Homo sapiens: one gene and its partners. The protein of the gene in region 3 purifies or fractionates together with the protein of the main gene of each other region. This does not show direct contact. Each region holds a gene or a part of one and is shown on either strand. Other genes may lie near its edges.

Region 1 (2,895 bases), about 10 Mb from region 3:
CTTTCAGGAGAGGAGCATGAGAAACTGCAGCAACTGCTTCAGCGAATGGTGAGTGGGTAATAATTGTGGTGGGTAATGAAAGCAATTAAAGGTGGGAGATATTCACAGATCTGAACAGATCCCTCCCGTTCACCCATCTCATCTTTGCTCCTCAGGAGCAGCAAGAAATGGCACAGCAGGAACGAAAGCAACAGCAGGAGCTGCACCTGGCCCTGAAGCAAGAACGTCGGGCTCAGGCCCAGCAGGGCCATCGGCCATACTTCCTGAAAAAATGTGAGTTGGGCACAACTGTTGCTAACAGGGACAGGGGTGCAGGGGCCATGGTGGTAGAGTCTTGTGTTGGGGTGTCCCTGATCCCCTTTAAGGAAGGCATGAAGGCTGGATCCCATGGTAACTTGGAGGAAAGTAGAAATAGTAGGGAGTTGTTTGTAACCAGTCTTGTATCCCTAATTAGATCATGGCAGGCATTGTCACCTTTATTTCTTGGTCTACACTCCCCACTTCCCAACCCCCCCCCCCCAACACACACACAGTGAGTTTTATCTCTTGGTCTACACTACACACACACACACACACACACACACACACACACACAAACACAGAGTCAGTTTTATCTCTTGGTCTACACACACACACACACACAATCAGTTTTATCTCTTGGTCTATACTACACACACACACAGAGTTTTATCTCTTGGTCTACACACACACACACACAATCAGTTTTGTTTCTTGGTCTACACTGCACACACACACATGCACACACGCTGGGCCAGGCACATAGGTGTTCATAGTTGGTTGAATTGAGTAGTACTGAGATCATATAAAAAGTCATCAGTTGGGCTGGGCACGGTGGCTCACGCCTATAATCCCAGCACTATGGGAGGCCAGTGTGGGGGGGTCACGAGGTCAGGAGTTCGAGACCAGCCTGGGGGCCAACATGGTGAAACCCTGTCTCTACTAAAGATATAAAAAAATTAGCCGGGCCTGGTGGCGTGCACCTGTAATCCAGCTACTCAGGAGGCTGAGGCAGGAGGATCACTTGAGCCCGGGAGGTGGAGGTTGCAGAAAGCCTAGATTGCACTGTTGTACTCCAGCCTGGGCAACAGCGTGAGACTCCATCTCACAGGAAAAACAAACAAACAAAAAAAAGTCACCAGTTGGGCCGGGCGCAGTGCCTCACACCTGTAATCCCAGCACTTTGGGAGGCCAAGGAGGGCAGATCACGAGGTCAGGAGTTCAAGACCAGCCTGGCAAACATGGTGAAACCCCGTCTCTACTAAAAATACAAAAATTAGCTGGGTGTGGTGCTGTGCATCTGTAATCCCAGCTACTCAGAAGGCTGAGGCAGGAGAATCGCTTGAATCTGGGAGGCGGAGGTTGCAGTGAGCTGAAATCGTGCCACAGCACTTCAGCCTGGGTGACAGAGTGAGACTCCATCTCAAAAAAAAAAAGTCACCCGTTGGCCAGGCGCAGTGGCTCACGCCTGTAATCCCAGCACTTTGGGAGGCTGAGGAGAGCGGATCACCTGAGGTCAGGAGTTCGAGACCAGCCTGGCCAACATGGCGTAACCCTGTTTCTACTAAAAATACAAAAAAATTAGCCATATGTGGTGGTGCGCGCCTGTAATCCCAGCTACTCCGGAGGCTGAGGCAGGAGAATCACTTGAATCTAGAAGACGGAGGTTGCAGTGAGCCGAGATCGCGTCACTGCACTCCAGCCTGGGTAACAGAGCAGGACTCCGTCTCAGAAAAAAGATAGAGGGGCACCAGTGAGCTTTAAAGAACTCATGTATCCAGCATAATGGCTTGGAGTTACTGACCTGGTTTGGGAAAGAATAGGGGCTTCCTTCTTTGTTCACCAACTTTCATTCTCCCTGTCATTTAGCTGAGCAGCGCCAGTTGGCACTAGCTGAGAAGTTCAAGGAGCTGAAACGCAGCAAGAAATTGGAGAACTTCTTGAGTCGAAAGAGGCGACGAAATGCAGGCAAGGACAGGAGACATCTCCCTTTGAGCAAAGAGTAATAAGGAACTATCCTCTGCTCTGCCACTGCCCCAGGGAGACATGGATCTGTGAGGACAGATTTGGCCACGGCTGGTTTCCGTTCAAGGGCAAGGATCACAGCTGCCCTTGAATCTCATTGCCTCAGAGAAGACTAGAGGGCTCTTGGACTATCCCTAGGGCTACACAAGAATAGTTCAGCCTTCTGCCATGCCACACAGCCTCAGCTTGAATCTGGTTCATTGCGTCCTCGTGTTCTTCTCTCATCCTTGCCTTAAACCAGGGATTCTGATACCGAAGAAGAGGGGCCAATGAAAACCATGGAGTCTGTTCGTGACTCCCAGGGCTGGGACATTATGTAGGAGCCACTTCATAAACATTCTCTTTACTCATCTTTTTATTCTGTTTTTTGTGGCCTTCTTTTTGTGTTTCCCCCCCGAAACAGAGTCTCGCTCTGTCACCCAGGCTAGAGTACAGTGGTGCAATCTCGCCTCACTGCAACCTCCACCTCCCAGGTTCAAGTGATTCTTGTGCCTCAGCCTCCCGAGTAGCTGACATCCGCCACCAAGCCCAGCTAATTTCTTTCGTATTTTTAGTAGAGATAGAGTTTTGCCATGTTGGCTAGTTTGATCTTAAACTCTTGGCCTCAAGTGATCTGCCTGCCTCAGACTCCCAAAGTGCTGGGATTACAGGCGTTGAGCCACCGTTCCGGCCTTAAGGCCTCTGCTTTTATGTGGGATTTGTGGGTAGCCTAGAACTACTTTTTAGTGGGCCACATATTGGGATAGGCAATAAAGCCTAAGGCATCTACAACTGGGAAGTCAGATCAGAAACCCCTCCCACTTAAATCTGGGCCCCTCAAGGATGACAAGATCATTTAGTGGGTGAACCAAT
Region 2 (3,539 bases), on a different chromosome or scaffold from region 3:
GCTGCATTTTGGACCTGTCTCCAAAGGCGTTGAGGAAATTAACCAGAATGAGAAGCCCCACCACCAGTGTTTTATTCTAAGCACCTCCAGCCAGAGCTGAGTGGATTAGGAAAGGCAGAAAAAAATCCCTGTGATGGGGTGAGGGCTGCTGGTGAAGATGCCTGCCACAACCCCACCCCCAGGTAAGAGGGGCAAGGTGAGATCAGGGGCTGGCACCACCCTGACGCCCCAAATAGCTCCAGCCTAAAGCACCATCAGCCTGCGATGTTCTAGGGTGAGCTGCTCCATGCCTGCATCCTTTAAAGGTTCTTTTCTCCTTTCTCATTTCTTTGCCAAATCTCAAGTCCTCGTTGCATCCCTCACTTGTCTTGCCCTTGCAAAGAGCCCACAGGACCTCTCAGGACCAGTTCTCTGTCTTCCTAGCTGATCCGAAAGCCAAATTCATGGCCTATGGAGTTCATGGGCTGATATGTCACCTTCCTCTCCCAGATCACCTATGCATTTCCACATACTTTAACACAGAGCAGTGACTTGAAGGTAGGGTTTTCTGGCCAGCTACTGATAATATATATACAAGGGCCAAGTGTGATCTGCATCACACTGGGTTTGCTCTGACCCCCTCACTGCTCACACCAGGAATGGACCTTGGAGAGTGTCATTTCTGGGGCACACACAATAGGCAGCTTAATCCCACCGCCCTATGCCAATCCCAGTTCATGGCAATGCTTTTGAGAATTCTTCCTTTTTTGCTTTGAGTCAGTCAAGGCTGGCCTCCCAAGAAGCATAAATTGCTAGTCCAAGGCTGTATGGAACACAGCATGTTCTGTCCACTAGAAGAAAGGGGTTCCAGGCCCTAGATTCCCAGCATAAAACACTGTTCATCCCATGCAAAATGCAGTGAAAATTGGTGGATGCTAAAGAGGTTCTTGCCTTGATCTTCAGAAGACATATCCTTGGGTGTCCCTGGGTTGAGAGAGTCCATTGAGGGGTTCCACAGTGAGGATCAAAGCATGCCGGTCTCCCTCTCATTCATAGAAGTCCTCTCATTCATTGATGACATCTTGGTAAAGCTTCTATGGCTGGGGTAGGAAGAGTGGCCTGTATCTTCACTTAGAGCATTGACCAGGCGAGAGAAGAGGGCCACCTTGAACTTCTTGAAGTCCTGACCCATGAAAACATACAGAATGGGGTTCATGCAGCTGTTGGCAATGGCAAGGGCAGTGGCCAGGGGCAAACCCAGGCTGAAGACAGAGCCAGGCATGGCAGTGTGGTGGAGCTCTAGGAGGTTGAGTGTGTGGTAGGGGCACCAGCAGAGGAAGAAGGTAATGATGATGGTCACAATAATCTTGAAGGGCTTCTTGGTCTTGGCCAGGCGGTTGCGCTGCAGTTTGCACACGATGGTGAGGTAGCAAGCTGTGATGATGAGGACTGGGACCAGGAAGCCACAGAGGAAGCGGGTGACAGTCACCACCATGTGCCGGCTATACCCCACAGGGTCCATTTGGGAGTGAGTGGGCCACGAGGAAGACCCAGGTGTGGACAGGCTGAAGTTGTTGAAGCAGGATATTTTCCCATGCAGGTTGGCTGTGTCCCGGAAGACGAGAGATGGGGAACTCAAGAAGAAAGCCAGGACCCAGATGACCATGCAGGCCATGTAAGCCAGGCGAACGCTGCGGTGGTTCTGGGACCAGACAGGGAGGAGCACAGAGATGCAGCGGTCAGAGCTGATGATGGTCAGCAGGAAGACGCTGGTGAACATGTTGTGGATGAGAAGGAAGTTGCTGATCTTGCACATGGCTGTCCCGAAAACCCAGTGGTAGTCCATGGCGGCATAGGTGATATGGATTGGGAGGAAGACGTTGAACAGGAAATCTGCCACTGCCAGGTTGAGGAACCAGACCATGTTCACTGTCTTCTTCATCTTGAAGGTGGCAATGATGATCACCAGACCATTGCCCAGAATCCCGAGGAAGCAGACGATGCTGTAGACCACCACCAGGAAGATCCTGGTCACCCTGGCTTCCAAGGGGGATAAGTCCTCCAAAACCACAATGGAGTCTAAATAATCAGGGTATTCATCACCGTAACTGATGGAAGTGTTGTAATCTTCATCCTCCATTCTCTGCAAGAGAAGACAGGGACCATTAGAGGAACCCTAGAGTTGGCTTTAAGAGGTTGACCAATACCAGCAAGACCAACAATGTTCCCCCTGACTCTGAGCAAGTCCAGTTTTGTGATTTAACCATTTCCTTCTTTGCTATTTTATTTATTGAACAAATGCCTCTCTGGTACCTCCTACATGCCAGGCACTATTGCATTCTACACTCTCTTAATCTTCACAGTAACTCAATGAGGTAGGTAGGTTATGAGCCTCAACTTACAAATGAGGAAACTGAGTCACAGAGAGCTTATGTCATTTGCCTGAAGTCCTACAGCTAGGAAAAGGCAGACCTGTGATTTGAATCCAAGCTTCAGAGTCTATCCTTTTGACAACCATGTTTTCTGTCTGCTTGGGGCCCTGTCTTCCTCTAGAGCCTAGTGGGGGAGACAATTGTTCATCAAAAAGTCCCTCAAATAATGGGAACATTGCAATAATGCTAAGTGCAATGAAGAAGAGGTACATGGTGCTGTGAACTTGATTCCAACATGCTTCTAAAACCAAGTGGACAGCCTTGTTGTGATCCCCCTGTGCACCCAATCTGTCAGTGGTCACTGGTGCCCTTTGGAGTTCAGACCACAAGACTTCCTCACCATTCACCGTTATGTTGTCTGCAGCTCTCCAATGTGAGTCCTCAGCCAATCAGTCCCTGTACACAGCTAGAAACACCTGTAGGGAAAAAAAAAAAAAAAAAAGCAGCAATTGGATCCAGGTCTAAGAACCAGAGGGTTGAGTGGACCCAGCCAGAAATAAGATCTGTTGTTCTTATTCCCATTTTACAGAGAAGGAAGCAGAAGTTCAGAAAGGCTGTTATTCAGCCAAGGTTATGCAGCCAGGAAGGGATGGAGCCCCTTGAACCTAGGTCAACTGACTCTTCCCAGGTCAAGTGCTGGACTCTTCATTCTAACCACTCCCCTCTCCCAGCACATCCCTAGCTGACAGCTGGAGTCGGGCATGAGTAAAGGAAGACACAGAGGAGGTACATGGATGGCTCAATCCACTACCAGGTCGGGACTCAACTCCACTACCAGGGCAGGACCCACAAAATACTGTTTTAGGAAGTGTGAGCACAGAGAAAACAGGAGAAGACCCACACAGAGTACCTGCTATGTGCCAAGAACTTTTATTCTTTCTTGTTATTTAGTCTTCCTTGGGACTTTTCCAGGCAGGTGTTATTCCTTTTGTGTTAAGAAATAGAGAGACTGAGGCTCAGAGAAAGAAGCATCATTCTTGCTGGATATTCTCTGGGCCCTATGGGAACCATGAATGAGATGCAGGCTCTGAAGCCACAGCAGTCTGGTGTGAAGACAGACACAAATATATCCACTGAGCCTCCGCTGTGCAGACAACTTAAGTGGCACTTTAAACAAGCCCCATAACA
Region 3 (3,656 bases):
CTCACATGCTCCCTTTGTTAATGGGCCTGTTGTGTGCTCTTCTGTAAGATTTCGAAGGGTGGTGACTGTGGCTCCTGCATCTGCATCAACATATTCCAGCACAGGGATTAGCGTACCAGAGATGTCAAACAAATATTTGCTAAACAAATGACAAAGAGTTCAAGACTGCCAATTCTTTCCCCTAAATCTAGGCCTAATGTTTCATGTGCAGCAATAAAGAGAGCTTCATAGTATTTTAAACGAGGCTTGACTTTGTGATCATATTCATCTGAACTCTGTTCACAAGATGAAAACTCTTCATCATCAATTTCATAATGGGGTCATGGAAATTCTCAAATCTCCCTGGCTTCAGAAAGGATAGAATAATTTAACAAACCAAGACCAAGGACCTGAGTTGAAGCTTATTCACCTAAGACCCTCATCAAACCTCCATAAAATGGGCTAGCAGTAGAGGGCTCTACTCCCTCCATCCCCCTCAGAGGATAGCAATGTGTCCATGGGTAGTGGACTACAGAGGTGCTCAAAGCAAAGGACTGACCCCTGTAGCCCCACTAGGAGCACATCACAGGAGACAATCCTCAAGTCAAAGTCACATCAGCCACCTTTCCCTTTGGGACTGAGGCCTAGCTTCTTTCCAAAGAGCTGTTTTGGTCAATTTCCCAGAAATTCTTCAAGTTGCGTGTTAAGTAGACACCACAGGGTGAGAGGACCCAGTAGGCTGGAGAAGGTGAAGTACTGAAAATAGGGGCAGGTGTCTGTCTACCTTGGGCTTCTGAGAATCAGATCGAAAGAGGACAGGACTATACTATAATGAAAAAGCAGGCCATCACAAACAGCTAACCACTACCTAACGAAATTTTCCATACCACTGCCAACTCCAAGAACCACCCAGGGGCATTATTTGCAGGCTTTTTTCTGAGGAACTGAGATACAAACAGTACCACTGCAAAGCTTTATACACTTCCTCCTTCCTTGGAGTAAAGCAAACTTTAATTAGGCCAAGAGGATGTGCAGAGCTATAATTAAAACCTAGCTACAAGCTCTTTTCTCCATATGAGATAAAGTCAATAACCCTGATGGTTTCATGCACCTTTTCAATGAAAGAAAAAAATGTAGGTGAGTTTCACACCTGGTTCTGGATGACATAATTCATGGAGTGAATCTTTTTTCTTTGAGACAGGGCCTGGCTGTGTTGCTCAGGCTGGTGTGCAGTGGCACAATCTCAGCTCACTGCAACCTCCACTTCCTGGGCTCAAGCCATCCTCCTACCTCAGCCTCCCAAGTAGCTGAGACTACAGGTGCACGCTGTCATGCCCGGCTAATTTTTATATTTTTGTTGTAAAGATGGGGTTTCACCATGTTGCGCAGGCTGGTCTTAAACTCCTGAGCTCCAGTGATCTGCTTGCCTTGGCCACCCAAAGTGCTGGGATTCCAGGTGTGAGCCCCTGCACCCAGCCAGGAGTGAATCATTTTTAACGGTGAGTTGACTTTTCCCATCTAATAACACATTTAACCACAAACAACTTGTAACCTTTAGCATAATAACCATTTCCATGGCACTTTCTGGAATGCTACTGAAACATCTCAGGAAACAAGGTCACTGGAAACACTTAAAGAAAAAGGAGGAAAACATCATCTTGGGTGGCCCTTATCAGCCATTAACATCAGCATCCCAAGATGTCAGAGCAACAAGATAACCCCTTTCCAAAGAAGACTGGCTGCTTCTGGTGATAAGAGCTTGATGAAGCTGCATGTTTACTACCTCCTATGCAGAAATGGGGTAAAAAGTAATGAAAAATAGACTATCCATACTCAAGTTCAACTACATCACAGGACCTAAGGTGCTTTTCTAAGCAAAATCTCCAAGAATACGTAGGGTTGACCCTCTTCATAGCTTTGTTTCTGTGTGAGTCCTCAACTGTGTATTTTTTAGATCTGGTACAAGCTCGTATTTTTAATGAGAAAACAGGGAATGAGAAGTGATAAGGATGGCCCAGGTCTTGGTACCACTGGGATTAGCACAAAGGAATCCTGACTCTCAGTCCAAATGCACCTCAAACAGCAGTTCCAAGCATCTTTGCCCTTCTTCATCTGTTTTTGAATTCTTAGTAAGAACATGGTAGGGATACTCTGTCCATGAAGAATTCTGTGGAAAAGCAGACCTTTAACTGCATCTTTTTCTTCCGCAGATGTTTGGTTTAAAATTAACCATGAACTACTCAAAATTGAAAGTACCTATTTCCTCTAGGGTTTAGTTGGCCAATTTTCGCAGTGCTATTAGGGAGTGCCAGGTCAAAGCATGTGGTTTTTACATTTCAAATCTTTCATGTCCAGAGCATAAGGATGCCCATTAAGATAATTTCACACCCATGACCTCCACAGGTGTTTTTTTTTTTTCCTTCTCCTTGTGAACAGGAATACCCCTGGGTTATAGCTGAACGTAACACTCTTGGCTAAGTTAAAAAAGACAGGTTCTGTACACTTGAGAAGTCTTTAAAACAAAACACAAAGAAACAGCCTGTCCTCAATCCAAACTGAAACAGGTATGTCTGGCATTTTCCCTGAATCCTCAAGCCCTGCCCTCTTATGCTAGCAGTTCTCCCTGTTCAGGCCTCCCAGAACTTTCCCTCTGTAGAAAGCAGATGGTAAGAGTGCAATAAGCATTAGATTAGTTAGCCCAATACCTGACATAAGGTAGGCACTATCTGTCTTTGCTATGATCTTAGGCAAATGTTAAGTACTTTTGCTTCCAACTAGGGCTAAGGTGGTGCTGGATGTCCCAGCCAAAGTATAATTTGTGTCATTTAAAGGAAGGTCTCCAGCCTACCCACTGACGCCTGCTTTGCAGAGTTAAGTCCACTTTAGTTGAGGATCTGTAGAGTGATGTGCTCCTAGCTACACCAGCTGCAGAGCCAAGCTCTCCAGGTGTTGCAGGGGCAAGTTTAGAGGAGTGAGGCCTGGCTCTGGACAAGCCAGAAGGCTTCCTCTCTGTAGAAAGTATTCCCTTCCCCTCCCCTGGGTGTGGGTGAGGAATGAAGGATGTTTGAGCTGCATCCTTCTCTCCATTCTCCCTACCGTGAGGCATTCTCTCAGGGCAGTGTCAGATACACTAGGGACAACTAACTGTTTCCTTTCAGGCCCTGAGAGAAGTTTCTTTCTCAGCAAGGAATTTTAGTTGTAAGGAAACTAAGAGTGAAAAGTATTCTAGGCAATGATCAGGCATTTCTTGTAAGTACTAATTTCACCAGATGTTTCAACTGCTCTATACCTCTGCTAAATGGGAAAAAGAACAGCAAATAGCCTTTTCAAAGTATTTTGGTAAACAAAGTTATTTTTCAAATAAAATTCAATAATCAATTGCCAGGTTGCTTAAGTGTTTTTCCAAATCCTATTTTCCCACAATAACGTATCTATTTTAGGAAAGCCTGAAGGGAAAGAAAAACAACCAGTTTAGAATATTATGTTTCCAAAGCAACTGCTCTGTGGTTCCATCAGATGGCCTTCAAACCCAGAGCCTGGGGAGATGCTTTCACAGCCCACAATTACAGAGGTTAGAAAGCACAAACAAAGCATTCAGTCACCAAATGCTCAACTTCTTTCATCTTTCCAATAAAAAAGCATCACAAATTTTCAAAACAAATTCAAAGGAAAAAAAA

The links.
Region 1: the proteins of ELOVL5 (region 3) and RRP36 purify together in Homo sapiens (affinity purification with mass spectrometry; one large-scale study listed by BioGRID and IntAct). This does not show direct contact.
Region 2: the proteins of ELOVL5 (region 3) and CMKLR1 purify together in Homo sapiens (co-immunoprecipitation; one large-scale study listed by IntAct). This does not show direct contact.

Annotation. Positions count from the first base shown.
Region 1 is NC_000006.12:43,027,205-43,030,099, forward strand, and holds the end of RRP36 (ribosomal RNA processing protein 36 homolog), read left to right. Parts: coding exon 1-48; intron 49-155; coding exon 156-273; intron 274-1,887; coding exon 1,888-2,024; 3' UTR 2,025-2,395; downstream 2,396-2,895. UniProt on the Homo sapiens protein: Involved in the early processing steps of the pre-rRNA in the maturation pathway leading to the 18S rRNA.
Region 2 is NC_000012.12:108,290,838-108,294,376, forward strand, and holds part of CMKLR1 (chemerin-like receptor 1), read right to left. Parts: intron 2,828-3,539; 5' UTR 2,755-2,827; coding exon 2,752-2,754; intron 2,123-2,751; coding exon 1,004-2,122; 3' UTR 1-1,003. UniProt on the Homo sapiens protein: Receptor for the chemoattractant adipokine chemerin/RARRES2 and for the omega-3 fatty acid derived molecule resolvin E1.
Region 3 is NC_000006.12:53,279,438-53,283,093, forward strand, and holds part of ELOVL5 (very long chain fatty acid elongase 5), read right to left. Parts: intron 1-3,656. UniProt on the Homo sapiens protein: Catalyzes the first and rate-limiting reaction of the four reactions that constitute the long-chain fatty acids elongation cycle.